6 separate regions of the Homo sapiens genome follow, and regions 2, 3, 4, 5 and 6 are each linked to region 1. The links come from fine-mapping of genetic effects on gene expression. A gene starts in region 1. Each other region holds a variant in brackets. All regions are shown on one strand. Distances are from middle to middle.

The links. PIP is the estimated chance that this variant, and not a neighbour inherited with it, causes the effect.
Region 2: its variant is the best candidate, but not a certain one, in a credible set for the expression of NRDC in cerebral cortex (GTEx, PIP 0.52).
Region 3: its variant is the best candidate, but not a certain one, in a credible set for the expression of NRDC in ileum (GTEx, PIP 0.75).
Region 4: its variant is the best candidate, but not a certain one, in a credible set for the expression of NRDC in monocytes (BLUEPRINT, PIP 0.62).
Region 5: its variant is the best candidate, but not a certain one, in a credible set for the expression of NRDC in whole blood (INTERVAL, PIP 0.79).
Region 6: its variant is the best candidate, but not a certain one, in a credible set for the expression of NRDC in blood mononuclear cells (TOPMed, PIP 0.70).

Annotation. Positions count from the first base shown.
Region 1 is chr1:51,876,714-51,880,848 of GRCh38, reverse strand. NRDC (nardilysin convertase) reads left to right here and starts at 2,122. Exons shown (of 31, transcript NM_001101662.2): 1 at 2,122-2,574. The coding sequence starts at 2,234. RefSeq lists silencers at 1-77, 2,035-2,084 and enhancers at 831-1,384, 1,775-1,954, 1,838-2,132, 3,801-4,135.
Region 2 is chr1:51,560,136-51,564,270 of GRCh38, reverse strand. EPS15-AS1 (EPS15 antisense RNA 1) reads right to left here. Exons shown (of 5, transcript NR_183651.1): 2 at 3,248-3,389. It also overlaps a transcript of OSBPL9 not described here and the pseudogene CALR4P. Among named protein-coding and RNA genes, the nearest start is that of EPS15, 43 kb to the right of the region's middle. The variant G/T (reference allele first, on the strand shown) is at 1,847.
Region 3 is chr1:51,788,379-51,792,513 of GRCh38, reverse strand. OSBPL9 (oxysterol binding protein like 9) reads right to left here. Exons shown (of 24, transcript NM_024586.6): 24 at 3,295-4,135. It overlaps NRDC (nardilysin convertase), which reads left to right. Exons shown (of 31, transcript NM_001101662.2): 25 at 90-137; 26 at 416-468; 27 at 853-936; 28 at 1,524-1,614; 29 at 1,865-1,981; 30 at 2,857-2,946; 31 at 3,081-3,304. The coding sequence ends at 3,278. Among named protein-coding and RNA genes, the nearest start is that of MIR761, 46 kb to the left of the region's middle. RefSeq lists a silencer at 3,691-3,891. The variant A/G (reference allele first, on the strand shown) is at 2,243.
Region 4 is chr1:51,799,675-51,803,674 of GRCh38, reverse strand. It overlaps NRDC (nardilysin convertase), which reads left to right. Exons shown (of 31, transcript NM_001101662.2): 21 at 2,992-3,119. Among named protein-coding and RNA genes, the nearest start is that of MIR761, 35 kb to the left of the region's middle. The variant AG/G (reference allele first, on the strand shown) is at 2,413.
Region 5 is chr1:51,699,241-51,703,375 of GRCh38, reverse strand. All of the region lies in intron 3 of OSBPL9 (oxysterol binding protein like 9), which reads right to left. Among named protein-coding and RNA genes, the nearest start is that of OSBPL9, 84 kb to the right of the region's middle. The variant C/T (reference allele first, on the strand shown) is at 2,023.
Region 6 is chr1:51,816,585-51,820,584 of GRCh38, reverse strand. It overlaps NRDC (nardilysin convertase), which reads left to right. Exons shown (of 31, transcript NM_001101662.2): 9 at 712-785; 10 at 2,450-2,519. Among named protein-coding and RNA genes, the nearest start is that of MIR761, 18 kb to the left of the region's middle. The variant T/G (reference allele first, on the strand shown) is at 2,239.

The DNA of each region.
Region 1 (4,135 bases):
GCCAGCAGAATTTCACAGCCTCAGTGACTGCGCACAGCCCTCCAGAATACCCTGAAAATATGCAGGATAGAGCACAAGTTCCCATGTCTCTTGCCTGAATCACTGCATTTTTAGAAAAGATAAATCCAATGATGCTCGACCTTGCCTCTTCCTGTACATTTCTGACAGGATTAATGACTATGCCTCCATAATCTATAAACATGTGTACTCTTCCACCTAAACCTTCATGAGATTTTGCTCTAGTGTAACTCCTGAGTACATTTTTTCTTTTTTATTAGAGACAAGGTCTTGCTCTGTCACCAGGCTAGAGTGCAGAGGCACAATCATAGTTCACTGTAACCTCAAACTCAGGAGTCCCAGCAATCCTTTTAACTCTGCCTCTCCTGTAGCTAGGACTACAGGGATGTTCTACCACGCCTTGCTTTTTTATGTGTGTGTGGAGACAGAGTCTTGATATGTTACACAGGCTGGTTGTAAATGCCTGGCCTCAAGCAATCCTTCTGCCTCAGCCTCCTTAATCACTGGGATTACAGGCCCAGCCTTTCTGAGCACATTTGATTTAACTTCCAAGCACATGCAGAGCGGCCACCACCTGTATAGAAGCTGCGGGCTGAAACACTGCTTTGGAGCAGTCTAAAAAAAAAACTCTCTGACTCTCCCAGGTGGCAGTCCTCAATAAGACTTCTGAAGAAAGCTAACTTGAATTATTTAAAAGCCTGATTTACTTTAGTTTACATATTTTACAGTTCCTTCCCATTAGGATGCAAGCTCCCCCAAGGCAAGGCTTTAAATTTTTGTTGTCGTTGTTTAGACAGGGTCTCACTGTGTCAACCAGGCTGGAGTGCAGTGTTGCAATCACGGCTCACTGCAGCCTCGACCTCCTGGACTCAAGCGTTCCTCCTGCCTCAGCCTCCTGAGTAGCTGGGACCACATGCACGCATCACCAAGCCTGGCTAATTTTAAAAAAGAATTTTGTACAGACGGGGGTCTCACCATGTTGTCCAGGCTGGTACCAAATTCCCAGGCTCAAAGCAATCCTCCCGCTTCGGCCTCCCAAAGTACTAGGATTATAGGTGTGAGCTATCACTATCACGCCCAGCCTAAGGCAAGTTTTGTTTTGTTCATGGTTGTATTCCTTGCATTTGGAACTCAGAAGAGGCCTCGAAAACCTTGAAGATACAGTAACTATCAACACATCTCCCTGCTTCACGTCTTTCCCCGCTCATTCGTATGTATGAGCTATGATCTCTTACCCCATGGTGTCAGTATAGTGCATCTTACTAATTTCAGCTGCTTTTTAGCTTTCATTTATGTTTGTATTTCCGTCACATTTTACATTGCTAACCAAAGACCACTGCTAGCGGGAAAAACTGGGAAAGGAGACTTGAAGGCAGCAGACGCTGCAGCTGCTCGATAAAAATTGGCCGAATTTAACAGGAGGCTGGAGGAGCTAAAAAACGTTTTCACACAGAAGAGTTAGCACATCCAGACTGGTCTTTTTAGCACTTTCTTAGGGCTTGAGGATGAAACCCCACCACTGTCGGGCCGACTGTAGGGTAGAGAAGAGCCAATTAGTATTTGCGGCGCTCGGGAGCAGCGTCCATCCGGCGGGTGTAGGAAAATACTTCCGGCGTTCTGGTTTTTTATGTGCTGAGTCACAGCCGAAGGCTCGCCCCGGGTCTGAGGAGTAGGGTACCCAAACTATGACACGAATGGGAAAATTTAAAACTTTGGAATTAATTCTCTGCACTCGTTTCTCAGTTTTCTCATTAGGGGAATATTTTTCTTTGACACGCGGAGCACTACTCAGTGGTTTCCACAAAACACACTCGTACGTCATAAACGCGCCGGGGGCCCTTCTCCCGTCGTCCTCCGCGCCACTCTCTCCGCTTCTTCTCCCTCGCCCCGCCCACTTTGGGTTTCGAAATGTTCGCTGGCTGTTCCGAGAATCAGTCCGGGTCACGTTGGTGCCTCTCCTTTCCTGTTCTGATTGGTTGCTTACGTGAGCGTGACTACTTTCTTGCCTCATGATTGGCTGAAATCAGTAGCGTCATCGGCGGCCGGGAGGGCGGAGGGACGAGGGAAGTCGGCGAGAGGGAGACTGGGTTGGGGGAGGGGTTCAGGCCTGTTCCCCGCGGCTGCGGCAGCACCAGGGCCGGCCGCCACCGCCTCTAGAACGCGGAGGAGGTGGGTCCTGGGAAGCGGGATGTCCATCGCTCCAGCTTGGTGGTGAATGCTGAGGAGAGTCACTGTTGCTGCAGTCTGTGCCACCCGGAGGAAGTTGTGTGAGGCCGGGCGGGAGCTCGCGGCGCTCTGGGGAATCGAAACGCGGGGTCGGTGCGAAGACTCTGCTGCTGCCAGACCCTTTCCTATTCTGGCCATGCCTGGAAGGAACAAGGCGAAGTCTACCTGCAGCTGCCCTGACCTGCAGCCCAATGGACAGGATCTGGGCGAGAACAGCCGGGTTGCCCGTCTAGGAGCGGATGAATCTGAGGAAGAGGGACGGAGGGGGTCTCTCAGTAATGCTGGGGACCCTGAGATCGTCAAGTCTCCCAGCGACCCCAAGCAATACCGGTGAGGGAGGAGGCTTGCAATGGGGAGGCGAACAGTGTGCCGGCTTCTCTGTCGGTGCCGCCGTCACTTCTTGTCTCCATGTCTCCCAATGGAGCAACAGGGCACACTTTCCACCCCAAATGCTTCCTTGGGTGGAGGTGGCAAGCGTGATTAGAGGCTTCCCTGTGGTGTCAGCTGGGCAAGTGGGAGATCTTGGGTTGTAAGACGTCAGAATGGGAGAAGCTTTTCGAGTCATTTGAATACAGTCGCTAAAGCAAGAATGAAGGTTTCTTTGAGGAACGCAGCCTGAATGGTGAGGGAGTCTTGGTATTATGTTACCAGGAAAGGTTGACGGAGTTGGATACTTTAATTTGGAGGACAGGATATTTAAGGGGCATATTATCACTATCCAAAATATTTGAGGGACACTTAAGTGATAGGTGAAACTAGTGGACGAAAGTTACCAGAGGATGGTGTGGCTTCAGTAAAGTAACTTTGCATCATATTTGGCCTAAGTTGAAGTGACTTGTTTCCATGGGTAGTTCTCCATTACCAAAACGGTTGGGCGACCTCGTCCAGGAATATATTAGAGAGGGCTTAGGTCTCAGTTGGGTGAGTTGTAAGGTTTCTTCTAACCTTGAAATTCTCTACTTTTGGTTTGTACAGGAGTTCTCTAAACATTTCTAATAATTGGTGATTCAGTCCCCACCTGAGTATTTTCCTTCAGAGGTAGCTTATTTCATGGAGTATCATGACTATGATGTATCTTGCGTGTGTGTGTGTGCGTGTGTGTTTTAATAAGAGTCTGGGTCTTGCGATGTTGCCCAGGCTAATTTCAAACTCCTGGGCTTAGGGAATCCTCCTGTCTTGGCCTCCCAAAGTACTGGGATTACAGGCGTGAGCCACTGTGCCAGGCCTGGACTTTGATGTATTTTAAATAGAGTTCATATTGTCCAATAACTTCGTTGAACAGGTTGAGGAAATTGAGACCCAAAGAGTTTGCTTCTTGCTCTGAATCACACAGCTAAATAATAACAGAGCTGGTATGATGACCCCTACTATCTGACACCAAATTCAGTGTATCATTTGCTGATTTCCTTTTTTTTTTTGAAACGGAGTCTTGCTGTGTCACCAGGCTGGAGTGCAGTGGCGCGATCTTGGCTCACTGCAACCTCCGCCTCCCGGGTTCAAGCGATTCTCCTGCCTCAGCCTCCCCAGTAGCTGGGACTACAGGTGCTCGCCACCACGCCCGGCTAATTTTTTGTATTTTTAGTGGAGACGGGGTTTCACCATATTGGCCAGGATGGTTTCGATCTCTTGACCTTGTGATCCGCCCGCCTCTTCTCCCAAAGTGCTGGGGTTACAGGCGTGAGCCACCCCGCCCAGCCCGTTTGCCGATTTTTTACAAATTTCTTGCTTATGTGAATTGAAAGCTGAAGGATTCTAGTTCTAAATTTGTTATAAGCCCCTACAGCGTTAGCGCAAGAAACAACCTTATAGATAATCTTTTCCACTTCCCACCACACCTCTTTGACAGATGACACTTAGCTCCAAGTTCAGGACCAACCTAATTTCTCCTTTC
Region 2 (4,135 bases), 320 kb after region 1:
TGAACCCAGAGGAGGGATTGGAAGTGCTTAAAGCCTCTTTCTTTTCTGCCCTGCATTTGTTTACAGGTCCTGAGCTGGACCTTCATATAGATGATGATGGGAGGGGGCAGAGGGAAGGAGCCAGGTCCAGCCTGACAGCACTCTGGACCCCCGTTTTCTTTTCTTTTCTTTTCCTTTCTTCTCTTTTCTTTCTTGCTTTCTTTTTTTTTTTTTTTTTTGAGATGATCTCGCTCTGTCACCCAGGCTAGAGTGCAATGGCATGATCATGGCTCACTGTGACCTCTGCCTCCTGGGCTCAGATCCTCCCACCAGGTGCATGCCACCACACTTGCCTAATTTTTAAAGTTCTTTGGGGTAGGGATGGGGTCTCACTATATTGCCCAGGCCGGTCTTGAACTCCTGGGCTCAAGCAGTCCTCCCACGTTGGCCTCCAAAGTGCTAGGATTATAGATGTGAGCCACCACGCCCAGCCTGGACCCCAGTTTTTTCTCAGCCTACGCATCTATCCTCATGAAGGAACATTTCATTTTAGTACTGGGAAGACTTTGAATACATCCTGGATCCAGAAGCCAAGAAGCCAGATAACTGGAAGGAGGCTATGGATGGGGAGTGGGAAAGGCCTCTGATGCCAAATCCGAAGTATAAGGTGAGGGGGGTCTCTCTTTCCAATGGGTGTGAGAAATGAGACAAAAGACATGTCAACGCTAATTGATGAAACAGAAATTCTGAGATCCTGTGGTCATCTTCCCTTCCCCTAAACCCCGCAAATAAGACTGTACCCTCATCTGAGCCCTGCTCACAGGGCTATGCCTACGTTGGACGGGGTGGGCTGGTAAAGGCCAACTTTGACAGGTATAGGGCCAGGCAGCCCTGGGCCTGGAGTTTGTCCAGAGTGGTGGAAAGCAGCCAGTCACAGGAATGTGGTCAAAATAGGACATGGGTTTGGGGTCAGGAACTGGAAGTCTTAGAAACAGGCCAGAAGGAGAAAGGGTGTCCATGAATGAGCCAAAAATGCAAGGGGTAGGGACACTTTTTATTTTATTTATTTATTCATTTATTTTGAGACAGAGCGTTGCTCTGTCACCCAGGCTGCAGTGCAGTGACGTGATCTCGGCTTACTGCAACCTCCACCTCCTGGGCTCAAGAGATTCTCATGCCTCAGCCTCCCGAGTAGCTGGGACTACAGGCACGTGCCACCACGCCTGGCTAATTTTTTGTATTTGCAGTAGAGACGCGGTTTCACTCTATTGGCCAGGCTGGTTTTGAATTCCTGACCTCAAGCGATCCGCCTGCCTTTGCCTCCCAAAGTGCTAGGATTACAGGAGTGAACCACTGCACCCAGCCAAGGGACACTTATTTTTAAGAGCTAACTCCTGACCTCATGTTAGAAGCAAGAAGAACGAAAGGAATCAGTGTCAAATTGTCCAGAGGTAAAACTGACTGAAGCAAGCATGATTTTATTTGGCCACAGTTTCCTACACTACACACCAGGAAGAGAACGGCCTCAACTGCCAGGATACTCAGATGATATTCTCTGAGAAGCTACATTTTCTTTATTTCATGAATGAGCTGGTGCAGACATGGGGCCAAGCTCAGAATGGGTCCCTGCCACCTCGCTTGGCTTCCTCTGGGTAGCAAGGGGAATTTGAAAGAATCTTGTGCATTAACTCAAAGAAAGGGAAAGAAGCTCCTGGAATCCTTCTCTGAATCCTTATGTCTAATACACAACTGCCTCATAAATCAATTGGTGTATTAGTCCATTCTTGCATTGCTATAAAGAAATACCTGAGACTGGGTAATTTATAAAGAAAAGAGGCTTAATTGGCTCATGGGTCTGCAGGCTATA[G/T]CTATACAGAAAGCATGGCAGCATCAGCTTCTGGGGAGGCCTCAGGTGTCCACTGTGATGGCGGAAAGTGATGGCAGGGTTTCTCACACGGTGGGAGCAGGAGCAAGAGAGAAAGGGGGGAGGTGCTACACAATTTAAAAGTAACCAGATATCATGATAACTCACTCACTATGCAGTACCAAGGGGGGATCGTGCTAAACCATTTATGAGAACTCTGCCCCCATGATCCAATCACCTCCCACCAGGCCTCACCTCCAACACTGGGGATTACAATTTGACATGAGATTTGGGTGGGGACACAGATCCAAACCATATCAATTGGCCTTTCTGATTGCATGAGATCAGAAGAATGACAAAATACTAATGCCTTGTTCACTGGTTCTTTGCTTAGGGAGAATGGAAACCTTGGATCATTGAAAATCCCAATTACCAGGGGGAGTAGATTCATCCCAAAATAGACAACCCTAAATATAAGCCTGACGCCACCATTTGTCACTATTATAACATTAGTGTTCTCAGCCTGGACCTTTGGCAGGTAAAGCCCTCTGAGCTCAGAGCCACTGAGCCACAGTCTCTCAGTTTTCACAAAGTAGAAAGAGCCTCAGGCTGGAAATCACAAGACTTGAATAAGTCTTGGTCTTTATAAGCCTCAGACTGCTGATCTTTTAAATGGGGGCAGTCATAGTCTTCCTAATAATTATAAGTTACTAAAATTTACTGAGTCCCTCTCATGTACCAAATGCTGTATTAAAGACTTTGCATATGCCATTTAATTTTCACTAGCGAGTCTCCTACTTGTTTTTTTTATTTTGGAAAAATTTAATATATTCTCTATTGTTAAGTACACCAGATGCTGGACTTCTGAAACAACAATTGTACTTCAGCATAATTGCATTTTCTACATTTTTTCTGTTCATGTTGCTTGTTCCTCTGATTTACCTAGAATCAGTGAATCTGAAAAACAAAAAGATTCTTTAAGCACCTGGTAAATTTCAGGTCCCACATTAGAAAATGAGCAAGCATCAATAATATTGATGGGGGTGAAAATATGACACTGTGAAAGTCTCCTACTTCTAAATGTGAAAAGGAGACTCAGAAAAGTTAAATAATTTGCCTGAAGACATACATCTGTTAAGGTAAGTAGAAAAGCTAGAATTTAAGTACAGCTCTTTTTGTGTTTGTTTGAGACAGAGTCTCACTTACTCTGTCACCCATGCTGGAGTGCAGTGATGCAATTTCAGCTCACTGCAACCTTTGCCTCCTGGGTTCAAGTGATTCTCCTGGCTCAGCCTCCTGAGTAGCTGGGACTACAGGCATGCACCACTACGCCTGCCTAATTTTTCTATTTTTAGTAGAGACAGGGTTTCACCATGTTGGCTAGGCTGGTCTCCAACTCCTGACCTCAAGTGATCCACCGCCTCGGCCTGGGATTACAATCGTGAGCCACCGTGCCCGGCTGAGTGCAGGTCTTTCTGATGTCAGATTCAAAGTTCCAATACTTTACGCTGCTTCTGCTGGTCCTACGTGATCCTTGGAGGTGCTTCTAGGGATAAAGGGAAATCAGAGATGTGGTAAAACTCTGAAACATTAAAATTCCCGGACAGATGTTAGGGGTGATTGCCCCAGCCATGATGATAAGTCCTGACCCAGCTTCCCTCTCTCTGCCAGTCTTCTTTCCTTTAATTGGAAGGTAAAAAGGAGGGGACCAATACGCCAGCCTTTAAAAAGTTGTTGTCCTCTCCATCTCTTTCTTCTCTGAGACTTATTAAGAAAGATGGGGAGGACTCCTCCCCAAATCAGGAGAAAAGAGAGTGGCTCAAGGCCCCAGAGTAAAGGCCTTGGCCATGATTCCTCCCAGGAGTCTGTTAGAAACTATAATCTACAAAGTCCTGGATGAAGAATTCCCCTGGAGAGGAAGGGAACTCACTTTTGTTAAACACTGGCCTGGGGTGAGTGCTTTACCTACATTACCTCCCCAAATTCTCACAACTCTATAAGGTAAGTACTATTATCCCTTATTATTTCCTCATTTTATGTTTGAGAGAATTGAGACTCAGAAACACCAAGCGACATGTCCAAGAGCACACAGCTAACGCATGGTAGAGACACGATTCAAACATAGGTCTGTCAGCCTCTAAAGCCTTTGCTGTATTGATTACACCCACTGTACAACAGAGCCTCTGGAAGCCACAGCCACCTGTCCTTGGGTATATCCTGCAAAGTCCCATGGCCACGTGTCTCAGTGTCTCTGATCAGTGATTTCTACAGTTCAGAGCCACCGAAGGTTTC
Region 3 (4,135 bases), 88 kb after region 1:
ACCTAAGTGGTTGCCTAGAATAGCTGGATTATTTAAAAGCCCTGTAAACCACTGGATATTCAGTTGGCCTGACAACCTTCTCTTTTCAGTCAGGTACCAGGAGTCTAAGAGAATATACGCTTATGGAGCTGCTTGTGGTAAGTGCATAAAGGAGATGCTGAGGTTTTCAGCAGCCCCTGACCCACTATGAGGCCCGGCCTTTTCTGCCTGGGTTAGGGACATGGGGTAGTCAGAGATCTGTGATTTGAAGGTGAGATGGTCATTTACTGTTCTCACCCAGTATAAGCCTGGGCCAATTAGGAAAAAGGCACTAAGGGAGGCTGGACTTGGGAGGTATGTGAAACACTCTGGGGAGAGAAATGGAGGTTTCTCTGCTGGGAGGAGTTGGGCTGATGGGCAGTATGTTGAATTACAGATGCACATGGAAGAACCTTGTTTTGACTTCCTTCGAACCAAGCAGACCCTTGGGTAAGTCAGCTGGCAGGGCCACTGAGCTCAAATAAGGGCCTAGGGCTTACTTTGCAGGCTGTTCATCAGATATCCCTACTGAGCAGCCTGTTAGAGCTTCCTTCCATCTCATAGGGTGATATTTAGTCATCCAAACTTTTGGAATTTGTATCTTTGACTGTAATCAGGTTTTCAGTTTGGTCAAGTTTCAAGATAAGAAAAAAGGCTAGTTTGTGGTCCCCAATTCAGGAGAGGTATGGACACCTTAACATTTTTGGGTCCTGTTTCAGGACTTCCAGTTCCAATAAGGATGGGCAGAAACTTTTCCCACTCCTATCTAGTGCCTCCAAGGCCAGGGCCCAGATGATCACCTGAGCTCATATAACTTTTCTCTCTGGCTTGTAGGTACCATGTCTACCCTACCTGTAGGAACACATCCGGGATTCTAGGATTTTCTGTCACTGTGGGGACTCAGGCAACCAAATACAAGTGAGTGAGTGAGTGAATAGATGAGTGTAACCTATTATGGACATGGAGAGTAGGGGCTACATGTGTTTCCTTAAACCTTGGGCAACCCTGACCAAGCAGGTTTGCTCTATTTAGTCAGTGGAAGCTGGGAAGATGGGGGTTGTTATAGATGGTCTGTTCCAGGACTGATCAATAGTTCCAGTGGCCCTTTCAGACTTGATTCAAGTCCTGTGGTCATTGTGTGGGGCTTGCCAGTGTTTCTTCTCTTCAGGCAGACCTGAGGACAAGAAGGGAAAGGATGCCTGATCTGACAGGCATTGCTGAAACCTGTTAGTTTTCAGCTTTGGAATGGTCATACATGGTTGTGACTGCTTCATTATGAGGATACCAGGAAACTGGGCTGGAGGTGGGGTGAGGGGGAGGGTTCTTTCTCTTTCTGTCCTCAAAGTCAGGTGGAATACTGAGGCCTGGGAAAACACTTTAGCTTTTTTTCCTGGATATATGTCTTAGTCTTAATTCCTTCTTTTGCCTTCTGCCTGAGATCGGGTTTCTGATGACTTAATTGAAGATGTTTTGTTTTAGTTCTGATTGAAGATGTTTTGTTTCAGTTCTGAAGTTGTTGATAAGAAGATAGAAGAGTTTCTTTCTAGCTTTGAGGAGAAGATTGAGAACCTCACTGAAGAGGCATTCAACACCCAGGTGACTGTGCCAGCCTGGTCTTTTGGCCTTTGGCCCACACAAGCCCCCAGATACAAATCTTAACAGGGCTTCGCCGGCCAGTTTTTGAGCTTTGCAGCCCCACCTTCCTCTTACAATAGTGTCTCCCTAGCTTCATCCGTGCCTCTTATACTGGCATGTCCATCACAAGCCGGGCTGGACAGGGCCCAGTGTGTTCTGTGGGAAGTGGTATGTTGCCTCACCTGAGCATCTTTCTTTTTGGTGGGAACAGGTCACAGCTCTCATCAAGCTGAAGGAGTGTGAGGATACCCACCTTGGGGAGGAGGTGGATAGGAACTGGAATGAAGTGGTTACACAGCAGTACCTCTTTGACCGCCTTGCCCACGAGGTAACATGGTTTTCAGAGTAAGACAGCTCAAACTGGTCAAGGTTCCTGATTCTACAGGCATCACAGGTCTGTGCACACCAGCATTGTGTGGAAGAGAAACTCGAAACACTAGTCCTGGCCTGATTACTCGCTCACTTCCTGAGTTTTCAGACTGGCCTCTCTAGCACCTTAGGTGGCCACGTGAGCTGGGTGCTAATCCTTACCACACCACCACCAATTTCAATCAGAGCAGCTCTATTTTTATGCTATATATTGAGGTCT[A/G]CAAGATTTTGTGGAGAAAAAGAGTTTTGCCGTTTAAAGAAAATTGAGGACTCTTTGTCTTTACGGAGTTCATTATTCCAAGTGCATGTGTTTTGACAACTTCTATTCCAAAGTAGTAAAACCTATGAAAAAGATCTGGATCTTGTACTCCAGTGTGACTTTGGTTAATACATAGCCCCTACATGGTGAATTACCATAGGACATCATTGCTCTGTGATGTAAAGAGGTTATTTAGTAAGAGGCTTCATCTTAACACATTTTAGTTTTCTTAATAGAAGCAAGGTAGATTTCCTCAAGCCGTGGTATGCAGCTACCATGTAATTGGGAGGTGACACTAAGGGGATGTGGGTGTTGGGCTCAGTGTATGGTATTTAGCTGTAATTATAGCATCTGCTAACCTCTCTTGCCATTGTAGATGATTGGTATAAAATGTGAAGGCATGCCAGAGAGCTTCATCATCGTTTTGGTCTGGAAGGTTAGGGGTAACCTGAGAATAGGAAGAATAAAATGAGGTCTTCAGATGCTAAGCAGGTCCAGGGACATCTGCCTGGGGGTTAGGTTTAAGAGCTATCTTTCTTCTTGAATTTCTTTCCTATCTTCCCTTCCCTTGTAAGATTGAAGCACTGAAGTCATTCTCAAAATCAGACCTGGTCAACTGGTTCAAGGCCCATAGAGGGCCAGGAAGTAAAATGCTCAGCGTTCATGTGAGTATGTTTAACTAACTCCATCCATTCTAGGGTTGTCATTTACTGAGTGAGTTTGGGTGGTTATCATCAGAACTCTTAAACCCCTAAATCTGGTCAGCATATTTTTCACTTTTGTCTTTGTCCTCTTTCAGGTTGTTGGATATGGGAAGTATGAACTGGAAGAGGATGGTACCCCTTCTAGTGAGGATTCAAATTCTTCTTGTGAAGTGATGCAGCTGACCTACCTGCCAACCTCTCCTCTGCTGGCAGATTGTATCATCCCCATTACTGATATCAGGGCTTTCACAACAACACTCAACCTTCTCCCCTACCATAAAATAGTCAAATAAATAAACTGCAGTCACGTTGGCCTGAAGCAATGTGTATTTTAAAATGTGTTTGTTTGTATTTTATGGAGTTAGTTATACTACTGCCTTAGGGCTTCCATTGAAGTTTTGCACTGGCATCATAGCATTTGATTTACTTTTTATCCTTTGTTGAGACTAATAAACCCAGGGTTACTGTAGGAGCTGGCAAAGGAAAATTAGCAGAATGGGCCAAGCGAGACCAGAAAGCCTGCAGCAGCACTTTGAGAAGCCCTGGCCTGTGTCCTCTCAGACTGAGAATCTACTTCTTGAAAGGCCTTACGTAACCAGTATATTGAATAACTAACTAAATGCTAGGTACTAATACCTGTTTTTTTAATGTATTTTTAAATAAAAAAGATGATAGATAGATAGATAGATATAGTTCTGTATTTCCCTTCAGAATGAGCCATCTGCTGCTGTGGCATTCATTTTATTCTATCTATCTATCTATTTTTGTTCACTGTGGGGTGGGGATCTATAAATACACACTCTTCCCAAACCCTCTAAGGCAATAAAACATTTTTGGATAAAATGTTGGTAGGCAGCCCTACATGTGCAATATGAGTTAAGTGAAGATTCTGGGGAATTGCCTGGCAGGGGCTAAAGACAGAACATACAATCTGACAGAGGAAAAGAATGGATCCTCCATTATTTCAAGTGTCTTTCTTTGAAAAGCTAGCTCTTGTATTCAAGGTTGCCAAATAATTGGCTTCCAAGTTTAACCATAAAAGATAATAAAAGATGCACATTTTTAAAAAAAAGGTTGGAAAAATTACTTTATGAAGCCTTAAGCACTAAGAATAATTAATTAAACTGTAATCCAGGATTAGATACAATTT
Region 4 (4,000 bases), 77 kb after region 1:
TATTCTAACTGTGACTGACTATCCATAAGAACAACATATGTTTCATTAATTACTGGCAGTGCATGGGATTATAGCCCATGCTTTAGGATTGATTTCACTTCCCTTTGCTGTCAGTTTCTCCACAACCAACACTGGCATTTAGGATTGGTTCTAGCTAAATTTTTTACCATACAGGAATAACCTTTTTTTTTTTTTTTTTTGAGACAGATACTCACTCCATCACCCAGACTGGAATGCAGTGGTGTGATCTTGGTTCACTGCAACCTCCGCCTCCCGGGTTCAATCAGTTCTCATGCCTCAGCCTGCTGAGTAGCTGGGACTACAGGCACGCACCACCACACCCAGCTAATTTTTGTATTTTTAGTAGAGATGGGGTTTCTCCGTGTTGGCCAGGCTGATCTCGAACTCCTGACCTCAAGTGATCTGCCTGCCTCAGCCTCTGAAAGTGCTGGGATTATAGGCGTGAGCCACCATGCCGGCTGTGGAATAACAAATTTGACTGGTGTTTTGCCTGAAATAGAGTAGAACTCAAATGCTTGTGCCCTTACTTCCTCATCTTATGCTCCTCATTGTTTCAAGTATGTGTGTCTTGTTTCCCTTCTAAGTTTATGAACCTTTCCGAAGCAGGGTCTGTATCATGTCAGTTATTAATCTCTTAGTGAGAAATATGTTCCAGTATTGCTTCATCAAAAACTTCATAAGAGGAGGAAAAAATAATGGGTTGTTAGCTAAGAGAGTTAGATTACTGAATACCAGGTAAAGCAATATAATATACTCAATAATAAATTTTATATCTAGGTTTCTTGGGTAGAATATATATTATATTAAGATTTAGGGAAATAGGGTTATACAAGAAAAATTTTAGAGGAAAGGACCTGCCAGAAAGACCTGTGCTAGGTGTTAATAGCCTTCATCTGGGCAAAAACCCAAGAGAAGAGTATAGCTCTCACCTTTTTATGCCTTTTCCCTTCTCCATCTCCCCATGGAACAAAGATTGGTCTCAGAAGGAGACGCCATCAGTAAAGAACTATCAGCGGACATTACATTAACTGATAAAATGATGATCACTGACATCAGCAACAAGCCAAGAATAATTTTACTTTGTCAGCCTCTGAGGCCTAAATATAATGTAGCTTAAGTTTCAAGCAGATTAAAGCCTAATTCAGTGGTTGTCATTTGGAAAATATGTTTTAGAATTACCTGGAGAGCTTATTAAAAATACAAACCATGGAAAAGTATTTGATATTCTTGAATTTGTGAGACTTAGCCTTAATATTAAAACCTAATATATAACATATATATATGTATGTATGTATGTATAGAAAACTAGAGATCAATTTTATCTGTAGAATATAGATGTAAACTTTCTAAAAATTAAATCCAGTTTAGCAAAAAGAATAATTCAAGTACCAGGAATGCTAGGGTTGTGGAATATTAGGAAATTGATGATCATAAGTCACCACAACACAAGTCAAAGGAGAGCCACTGTATGAATATAGTGATAAATGCTGATAAATCATTTGATAAATTTGAGTTGGCATTCCTAATACATAGGAATGGAAGGAAATTAATTAAGTATAAAAACCTCAGCCTGGCGCGGTGGCTCACGCCTGTAATCCCAGTGCTTTGAGAGGCTGAGGCGGGCGGATCACGAGGTCAGGAGATCGAGATCATCCTGGCTAACACAGTGAAACCCCGTCTCTACTAAAGATACAAAAAATTTGCCAGGCGTGGTGGCAGGCGCCTGTAGTCTCAGCTACTCGGGAGGCTGAGGCAGGAGAATGGTGTGACCCTGGGAGGCGGAGCTTGAAGTGAGCCGAGATCGCGCCACTGCATTCCAGCCTGGGCAATAGAGCGAAGACTCCATCTCAAAAAAAAAATCAAAAAACCTCAAGTAAAGAACTATCAGCGGACATTACATTAACTGATAAAATGATGAACACTGACATCAGCAACAAGCCAAGAATAATCCACAATCATCTCTATTATTCTGTTATTGTTTTAGAGGTTCTGGCTATTAGAGTAAGATGAAAAAATAAAAACTTTTTTGGAAAAAATATTTTTCCTTGCAGATGATATGATTGTATTCTTAGAAAACCTCATATACCACTAAAATTAAAAAAAAAATTAGGTGTGATATGGCTGGTCAAAAGACTAGTATATCAGAATCAATGGCTTTTTCTCCCCCATAGTACCAGTAATCACTTAGAAATGGAAGCCAGGCACAGTGGGATGTGCCGGTGGTCCCAACTCCTCCGGAGTATGAGGCAGGAGAAATACTTGAGTTTGAGGATACTTAGCTATGATCGTGTCACTAGCCTGTGCGATATAGCGAGGCTCTGTCTCTTAAAAAAAGAAAGAAACAAATGGATGGAAACAATCTTACATTTATTTACAATATTGAGAAAAAAA[AG/G]CCAATAAAATGGCTAAGAATAAACAGGAAAAGTATAGGATCTATCTGAAGACAAACTACAAATCTTATTGAGAACACCCATGAAATGATAAAAAAGGAAGAATTGTTCCAAATTTGACAATTATTTAGAATTTTGGACCCTTAAGATTCTTTGAGGCTAGGAGGCTGAGGCAGGAGGATCACTTGAGGCCACGAGTTTGAGACCAGCCTGGCAACATAAGAAGACCTTGTCTGTACAAAAGCAAAAAAATTAGCCGGGCATGGTGGCCCCTGTCTGTAGTCCCAGCTACTCAGGAGGCTGAGGTGGGAGTATGGCTAGAGCCTAGGCATTCGAGGTTATAATGAATTACAGTCGATAGTACCACTGCACTCCAGCCTGGGTGACCAGTGATATCCTGTCTCCAGGTAACACCCAAACAAACAAACGAACAAATTGAGTTGTTAGTAATTTTCTTATGTCCCCCCACAATGCCTAGTTCCATGCTGGGTACCTGGTAAAAACCAAAGAGAAACATTTCCCTCCCTAATACCTAGTGGATTTCCATGCTTCTTAAAATGCTTCCTTCTTTTTCTTTTAGCTACTGTTTCAGCTCATTATTGACTACTTAGCTGAGTTCAATTCCACACCAGCTGTCTTTACAATGATAACTGAGCAGTTGAAGAAGACCTACTTTAACATCCTCATCAAGCCCGAGACTTTGGCCAAGTGGGTATAAATGAGATGAGCTTATATTTTGAGGACCTGAAAGTATTACTCTCCCTAGTGGGTGGGTGTGGGGGTTAAGGCTATAGTTGCAGTGCTAATTTTCATCCGTGTTTGAATCGTGCTCTAGTTTAGGAGACCCGTGCATAGCGTTACGGTATTTCTAAACCCAGCTTATGTAGCTAGCTGTGAATGGGACTGAAAGCAGCTTACTGTAGAGACTAAAAGTAAGGAAGGGTGTTTTCACCAATCATTATACCTGAATGTTAAAGAAGTGCTAGTTTTAGGCCGGGCATGGTAGCTTATATCTGTAATCCCAGCACTTTGAGAAGCTGAGGTGGGAGGATCACAAGCCTAGAAGTTCAAGACTAGCCTGGGCAATATAGCAAGACTTCATCTCTACAAAAAATTAAAAAATTAGCTGGGTGTGGTGGCACATGCCTGTAGTCCCAGCTACTTGGCAGACTGAGGTGGGAGGATTGCTTGAGCCCAGGAGGTTGAGGCTGCAGTGAACCATGATCATGCCACCGCACACCAACCTGCATGACAGAGATAGACCCTGTCTCATAGAAAAACAAACAAAAAACAAACCAGAAGAAGTATTTACTGGTGATTTTAGTATGTTGGTGATTAGTAGCTGAGTTAAATTGCTAAACATGTCACTTATCTAGCAATCTTAACTATCCAGAATTCAGCCAAGCTTCCAGAAGAGAGCAGAAAGGCAGCTACACAGTCTGTATGCTAATACTTAAACCCTCTGCTCACAGGCAACCCCCTTGGGCCTTCATTCAGAGCCTGTTCTTACTACTTTAGTCCAGGGCTAATTGTAGCCTGTAGGATACTTTTGCGTGAATCAGAAAAAAGTATCCTTCTGAGGTACCCTC
Region 5 (4,135 bases), 180 kb after region 1:
ATCCAACTTACAAGGGACATGAAGGACCTCTTCAAGGAGAACTACAAACCACTGCTCAATGAAATAAAAGAGGATACAAAGAAATGGAAGAACATTCCATGCTCATGGGTAGGAAGAATCAATATCGTGAAAATGGCCACACTGCCCAAGGTAATTTATAGATTCAATGCCATCTCCATCAAGCTACCAATGACTTTCTTCACAGAATTGGAAAAAACTACTTTAAAGTTCATATGGAACCAAAAAAGAGCCCACATTGCCAAGTCAATCCTAAGCAAAAAGAACAAACCTAGAGGCATCAAGCTACCTGACTTCAAACTATACTACATGGCTACAGTAACCAAAACAGCATGGTACTGGTACCAAAACAGAGATAGACCAATGGAACAGAACAGAGCCCTCAGAAATAATGCCACACATCTACAACTAACTGATCTTTGACAAAGCTGACAAAAACAAGAAATGGGGAAAGCATTCCCTATTTAATAAATGGTGCTGGGAAAACTAGCTAGCCATATGTAGAAAGCTGAAACTGGATCCCTTCCTTACACCTTATACAAAAATTAATTCAAGATGGATTAAAGACTTAAATGTTAGACCTAAAACCATAAAAACCACAGAAGAAAACCTAGGCAATACCATTCAGGACATAGGCATGGCAAGGACTTCATGTCTAAAACACCAAAAGCAATGGCAACAAAAGCCAAAATTGACAAATGGGATCTAATTAAATTAAAGAGCTTCAGCACAGCAAAAGAAACTACCATCAGACTGAACAGGCAACCTACAGAATGGGAGAAAAATTTTGCAATCTACTCATCTGACAAAGGGCTAATATCCAGAATCTACAATGAACTCAAACAAATTTACAAGAAAAAAACAACCCCATCAACAAGTGGGCAAAGGATATGAACAGACACTTCTCAAAAGAAGACATTTATGCAGCCAACAGACACGTGAAAAAATGCTCATCATCACTGGCCATCAGAGAAATGCAAATCAAAACCACAATGAGATACCATCTCACACCAGTTAGAATGGCGATCATTAAAAAGTCAGGAAACAACAGGTGCTGGAGAGGATGTGGAGAAATAGAAACACTTTTACACTGTTGGTGGGACTGTAAACTAGTTCAACCATTGTGGAAGTCAGTGTGGCAATTCCTCAGGGATCTAGAACTAGAAATACCATTTGACCCAGCAATCCCATTACTGGGTATATACCCTAAGGATTATAAATCATGCTGCTATAAAGACACATGCACACGTATGTTTACTGTGGCACTATTCACAATAGCAAAGACTTGGAACCAACCCAAATGTCCAACAACGATAGACTGGATTAAGAAAATGTGGCACATATACACCATGGAATACTATGCAGCCATAAAAAATGATGAGTTCATGTCCTTTGTAGGGACATGGATCAAGCTGGAAACCATCATTCTCAGCAAACTATCGCAAGGACAAAAAACGAAACACCGCATGTTCTCACTCATAGGTGGGAATTGAACAACGAGAACACATGGACACAGGAAGGGGAACATCACACACTGGGGCCTGTTGTGGGGTGGGCAGAGCGGGGAGGGATAGCATTAGGATATATACCTAATGTTAAATGATGAGTTAATGGGTGCAGTACACCAACATGGCACATGTATACATATGTAACAAACCTGCACGTTGTGCACATGTACCCTAAAACTTAAAAGTATAAAAAAAAAACAAAAAAAACCAGTATTTTGACTATATAGTGAAAGGATAGGCCAAAAAAAAAGAACCATATACAAATACAATACTCTAGTTAGTAAATTTGATTTTCATAGGAGTACATGTTAGCAATTCTGTAACTACAGACAAGTGAGTATGTTATAGATAATGAGAACCAGGTTTCTTACTATCAGAAAAAAATTAGAAATACAGAAAGGGAGAAGGTTAGAATAAACCTTGTGATGTTGAACTACAATCGGAGGTTTCAGTATGAACTCATGATTTTAGGTAAATAAATTCACAGAGTACTGGA[C/T]TATAACCCATAGAATATAATAAATATCCACAAGTCCAATATTAATATAAAATAATTGAATAAGTAAATAAGTAGGGGAGATGAGACATCTCTTCCTTTAGAAGAATTACAATGGGCCGGGCGCGGTGGCTCACGCCTGTAATCCCATCACTTTGGGTGGCCGAGGCGGGTGGATCACCTGAGGTCAGGAGTTTGAGACCAGCCTGGCCAATATGGTGAAACCTCGTCTCTACTAAAAATACAAAAATTAGTCAGGCGTGGTGGTGGGTGCCTGTAATCTCAGCTACTTGGGAGGCTGAGGCAGAAGAATTGCTGGAACTGGGGAGGCAGAGGTTGCAGTGAGCCGAGATTGTGCCATTGCACTCCAGTCCAGGTGACAACAGGGAGACTCCATCTCAAAAAAAAAAAATTACAATGAATAAGTGTAGAAGGACTGACAAAAGTTAAAAATCACCATTAGACCAACACCACAGCAATAATTACATCAGGCAAGATCCACTAATGGCTAAAATCAATGGGCAAAAGTGAGAAGAAACAGGAAATTGGCATAGATTCAAAGTATCTCCCACAAGAGAATAAAGTATCTCCCCCAAATGAATAAATAATAATTTTACAATGGAAAAATCTGGTACACTATCTTAATCAAGTGATCAAGGTTAACATCACCAGTTAATAAGATTAATTGACATCCTATACCTCTGAATACAATCCACTGAGACAAGGAAACAACAGCATCATGTTTGTGGTATTCTTGCCAAAAATACATAATTGCAATCGAATCATGAGAACATATCAGATAAATCCAAAATGAGAGACATTCTACAAAATAACTGACCAATACTCATAAAAAATGTCAAGGTCATGAAAGATAAAAAACAAATAAAGAACTATTACAACTAAAAGCAATGTGGCATCCTGGATTGAATCCTGGAACAGAAAAGGAGCATTAGAGGGAAAATTCAAATGAGCTCTGTAGTTTAGTTAAAAGTACTGTACCAAATGGGTGGGAGATCTGGCTCAGGACATTAGAGCCTGAGTAGGGTGAAGAGGGCATGCATCATGTAAAGGCACAACCTAGCACAGGGCATGAGAGCCCAAAGCAAGAGGAAGAGGGAAGCTATACAATGGGAAAGTCCAATATGAGGAGTCAGAACCCAAGAAAAAGAAGGAAGGTGTCCACATTGCAGTGAACAGGCTCCGCATGGCACAAGGTTTCCAAGGCTGAATGGAGTGATGGTGACATTTACAAAAGGACATGGATGATTGGAAAATAATTACATACAGAAGGATTGATCAAATAAGTAAATACAACAAAGATAAAGTTTTTCTCACTTTTGGAAAACGGAGTTAAATATGGTAAGGGAAAAAACAGAATTATTTCTGTTGTGATAGACTGTAACTGGAGGTATCAGCATGACCTCATCATGGTTTTCGATATACATGTAGATAAATACATATGGAAATAAATATGAACATGGATGTACACATGTGTAGACACAAGCACACCCCTATGTATGTAACATTCATGTTTCTTAGCTCTATGTACATAACATTCATATGTTTCTTAGCTCTCTAGAGGGCCTGGGAGCCATAACACTTTATAAGCAGTAACTACACCTAGCACTGGGTGTTGATTTCTAAATATCATTAGAAATCAGCACTCCCTGGAAAAATGGTTGATTCCAGAACTAGGACAGAGAAGGTATAAAATGAGCCTGGAATGTCTTTTTGTGCCAGAAAGTAAGGAAATACTTAAAGAATGACAGGGGCATGTTAAAAGGACACAGAGGTCAGCTTAAATAGGATTCCTCTGGTCAAATTGAGGACAATTTGAGCATCAAAATAAATAAAGACATTTGTGTTTGTAAAGGCGAACTCAGGGAAAGCTTCTGAGGCAAGGAAATTAAAGCTGAGTTTTAAAACTGAGTAGAAATTAGAGGCAAAGGTATGTGAGTGTATATGTGTGTGTCTGGGTGAGAGGGAGAGAGAGAGAAAGAAAAAAGTGGGGGTATGTGGAGAAGGAGAGGGGCACTGACAGGGAAGACATTCCAGGTAAAAAAGACAGACTAAGCAAACGAGGGCAAATTAGTATACTATACAAAAAAAGAGGGAA
Region 6 (4,000 bases), 60 kb after region 1:
TTTTTTCTGATTAGAAGTCTTGAGTGTGAACTATGGAAATATCAAATGTGAAACTTTAATAAAATCAGAGGTGTGTTTAATAGAGGAATTCATTAGGTTCTGTCAATCCCTGATGAGCATTAAAAAAAATCTCATATATTATTCACTAATAACTTTGGTTCCTTAATTAGACAGGTTAAAAATTCTTTGAGGCATTTAATACTAATTTGCATCAACTGTGTTTTGGAAGAAATATTAAAGTTACAATATCTTCAACCAGAGTAGAAGCCCCTAGGAGGGACCAAGTCTTTTAAATACCACAGTGCCTAATATAGTGCTTTATACCTAATATTCACTTCATGTATAATCGTTGATTTTAAAAAAGTATTATCTCTAGTTTGTTTCTTTCTGGAATGGCTTTGTCTAGGAGGAGAACTGAAATTAAATGAGGCTGATAGAGTCAGTAAATATTGGGGTGAGAGGGGGTCCTTTAAATTCATTCTCTATCTCTTGAGTTGTAAAGACTTTTGAGTTATTGGGCTGAGGCTAAGAACAGATTGTGTAACTGAAGATTTTGTGGCTGTGTTGCCATCTATTTGTTCATGCCTGGAATGCTTTCCAAGAAGGAGTATGTAGAATAGATTATAAATATCTCTCAGTTAGATATCCCTAAAGATATTGCTTATAAAGGCTTTTGCCAGTTAAATTTGTATGTATTTGTTTTATTTTCAGTGGGTTACCCAGACCAAACTTTGGCCATTTAACGGATCCATTTGACACACCAGCATTTAACAAACTTTATAGAGGTTTGTGAACCAAAAGTTTAAAACTGTTTGAAATAATGTTAGCACATTCTCTATAACCTAATTGAAGCTGCCAATTTTCATTGAAAATGAGAACACAACAGAAAATACAGCTGGGTTGGAAAGGAAGTAGATGGGCAATGGAGATCTAATTAATAATAGATAGCAGACCACTGACTAGCTGCAGATCGATTGATTCTGGTGCCCTGCTGCTACTTCAGTCTATTTCATGCTTTCTCCTTGTTTTACCTTTCTTCCCTTTTGTTCTCTGTTTTGTTAAATTTTCATTCATGTTTCATTTTATTTATATTCTGCTCTTTTGCCTTTAAATGAATAAAAATAGATGAGAGGGAAAACACTTTGGCAATCGTTTCCTTTTAAATTCATTGTGAAAGTAATATTTGCTAAATAAAAATATAAAATGTCAAGAAATGGGAGATAAATCACCCTTAAATCTTACCATGAAGAGAAGTCATTTGTATCGGATTTCTTTTTTTTTTTTTTGGAGACAGAGTCTCGCTCTGTTGCCCAGGCTGGAGTACAATGGCATGATCTCAGCTCACTGCTTCGCCTCCCAGGTTCAAGCGATTCTCCTGCCTCAGCCTGCTGAGTGGCAGTGATTACAGGCACTCACCACTATGCCCAGCTGATTTTTGTGTTTTTAGTAGAGACAGGGTTTCACCACATTGGCCAGGCTGGTCTCGAACTCCTGGCCTCAAGTGATCCGCCTGCCTTCGCCTCCCACAGTGTTGGGATTACAGGCATGAGCCACCACGCCCGGCCTCCAGATTTCTTTCTGATTTTCTAATAGGTATATTTTCTTAACAAAGTCGAGATTATAAAGTATATATATAATTCTGTCTCCTGCTTTGTTTCATTTAATAGTATACCTGTAATAACTACATAATGAGTTGTGTGATTACATTATAATTTACTTAACAATTTGCCTACAGTGAATATTGCAGAAACATTCTTAATTCACCATCTCTCTTTATTCTATCACGGCAGATTTTTTTTTCTGTTTTTACTAATTGCCTTAGGTATTCCCTCCTTCTTCACCCCGTTACCAGTCTCTTTTGCTTTCCCCTAATCAGTGACTGTTTTGTTACACGCTTCTGCTGCTGGCTCCATTCTGTTAATATTAAACTAACTCTTTCCAGAGACAACTTACTTTTTATTGTATTCTTTCTGGTTTTAGGTTTCCTCTTCATAGAATAATAGCATTGAGAAGAATCCTAGAGATACTTTAACCCAACTAACTCATTTTACTATGAGTAAACAGATTCAAAAAGATTTAAATGCAAGTGATTTTCTCAGGTCATGTAAGCACATATAGCAAGATAGTGGTAGGACTGAATTTCAGCCATGGGTCTCCTGACTCCTAGTTTTGTATCCTTTCTTGCAAGAAGAGATCCATACACAGCAGCATTTCATATCCTCATAGTTCTTTTATCCC[T/G]GCTTTCTCTACCTCTGAAACCAAATAAAAAAGAAATTTACAAAAATTGCATTATTCGAGTTGGAAAATTGGCAAGTTGAAACAATAACTGCATTGTACTTAACCTTTCCTTGTTTATTGGAGGATAAATATATTGAATTTTAAACATTCTTGTAGTAAAAGTCATAGAGAAACACTTACATCTGTTCTTCTGGAAAATATTTTTGTTTAGTTGTTCCAATCAGAAAAATTCATGCTCTGACCATCACATGGGCACTTCCTCCTCAACAGCAACATTACAGGTAAGAGTTTAAGGGAAAATTTACTTCATTAGAACCAAGTGAGAGTAATTTTTAAAGCATGCTAAATGGTTTAAGTTTGGGGGTTCTGAATTTATAAACATAGCAATACGGTAACCTGGAACTTGATTACTCCGGGAGCTTTCAAGCCTTGCTATGTATTTTACTATTTTTTGGATATAAAAACTAGAGCTTTCTCAGTTATAGTGGCCTTTCTTAAGTCTTTGAAATTAAGTGTTTAGTGTGAATGCTAACTTTTGTAATTTGTTTCGATCTTGTCAAAAATAAAGTTAAATAATTTGGGCCTGGCAGACTGGCCAACATAGCGAAACCCTGTCTCGACTAAAAATATCAAAAAACTAGCCAAGGCGTGGTGGCACACACCTGTAATCCCAGCTACTCAGGTGGCTGAGGCACGAGAATTGTTTGAAGCTGAGAGGTGGAGGTTGCAGTGAGTTGATATTGCGCCACTGCACTCCAGCCTGGGTTGACAAAGCAAGACTCTGTCTCAAAATAATAATAATTTGGATTGGTAATATGACTAGGGTACATAAATCCCAAGGATTTACTCCTCTGAATTAGGGCAGGTTTATGCAGATTGGGAAAGGAGTTCTACTTGTCTGTATAGTTATCTTATATGAGCAGTGTAGCATGGGCCAGAGAATTATTTAAGTTAAGGATCAGTCAATGCCTACAAATGCTTTTCCAGTTAGAAATAAATGCTAATCAACTGATAAAAATTTAACTTTTTTGGGAGGGGGGGTGGGGCTCAAGCAGTCCACTCACCTTGGCCTCCCAAAGTGCTGGGATTACAGACATGAGCCACTGTGCCCAGCCAAATTCATATTTTAAACAAGGTTGTATGGGCTTTAAGGATTGCCTAACATAGTTGAAAATCATATCTTGACATTCAAGAATTTACTGAATTTAACTGTGTAACCTAATTAAATTTTCTCATATATACAGAAATATACAGAAAACTCAATTTTTTTCTGTATGTCTTTGTGGTAGGAATACTTTAACAAAATTACAGTAGAGGCCAGGGGGAAAGACAGTTTGAACAGCATGTGCACAATTACTCGGACTATTACATTATTAGTATGTGATAAAGCATTTTTATACTTGTTATTGCATTTTCATGAAAACTCTGTGAGTAAGTAGTTGGGCAAGTGAAGAGAAAAAGAAGAATACGGTTAAGTATCTTGCTCAAGGTCATGATTTACTTAAAGGAAAAACTAAAACTAGAACCAAGATTTTCTGACCCTCTGAACAACACATTTCATTTTACCACAGAACCCAATGTGGTACCAAAAGCTTTTACAGACAGTAATTCATACCTATATTAGGTTCTAGACTGATAAGGAATCTACATTTCATATTGGGTGAAGCAAAAAGATTTATCATGAGAGCAGATAAGTTTGGTGTCCAAGAGAAAAAGTAGTGCCCTTAAATTTTGGGATGATTGTACTCTTCAGTAATCTCAA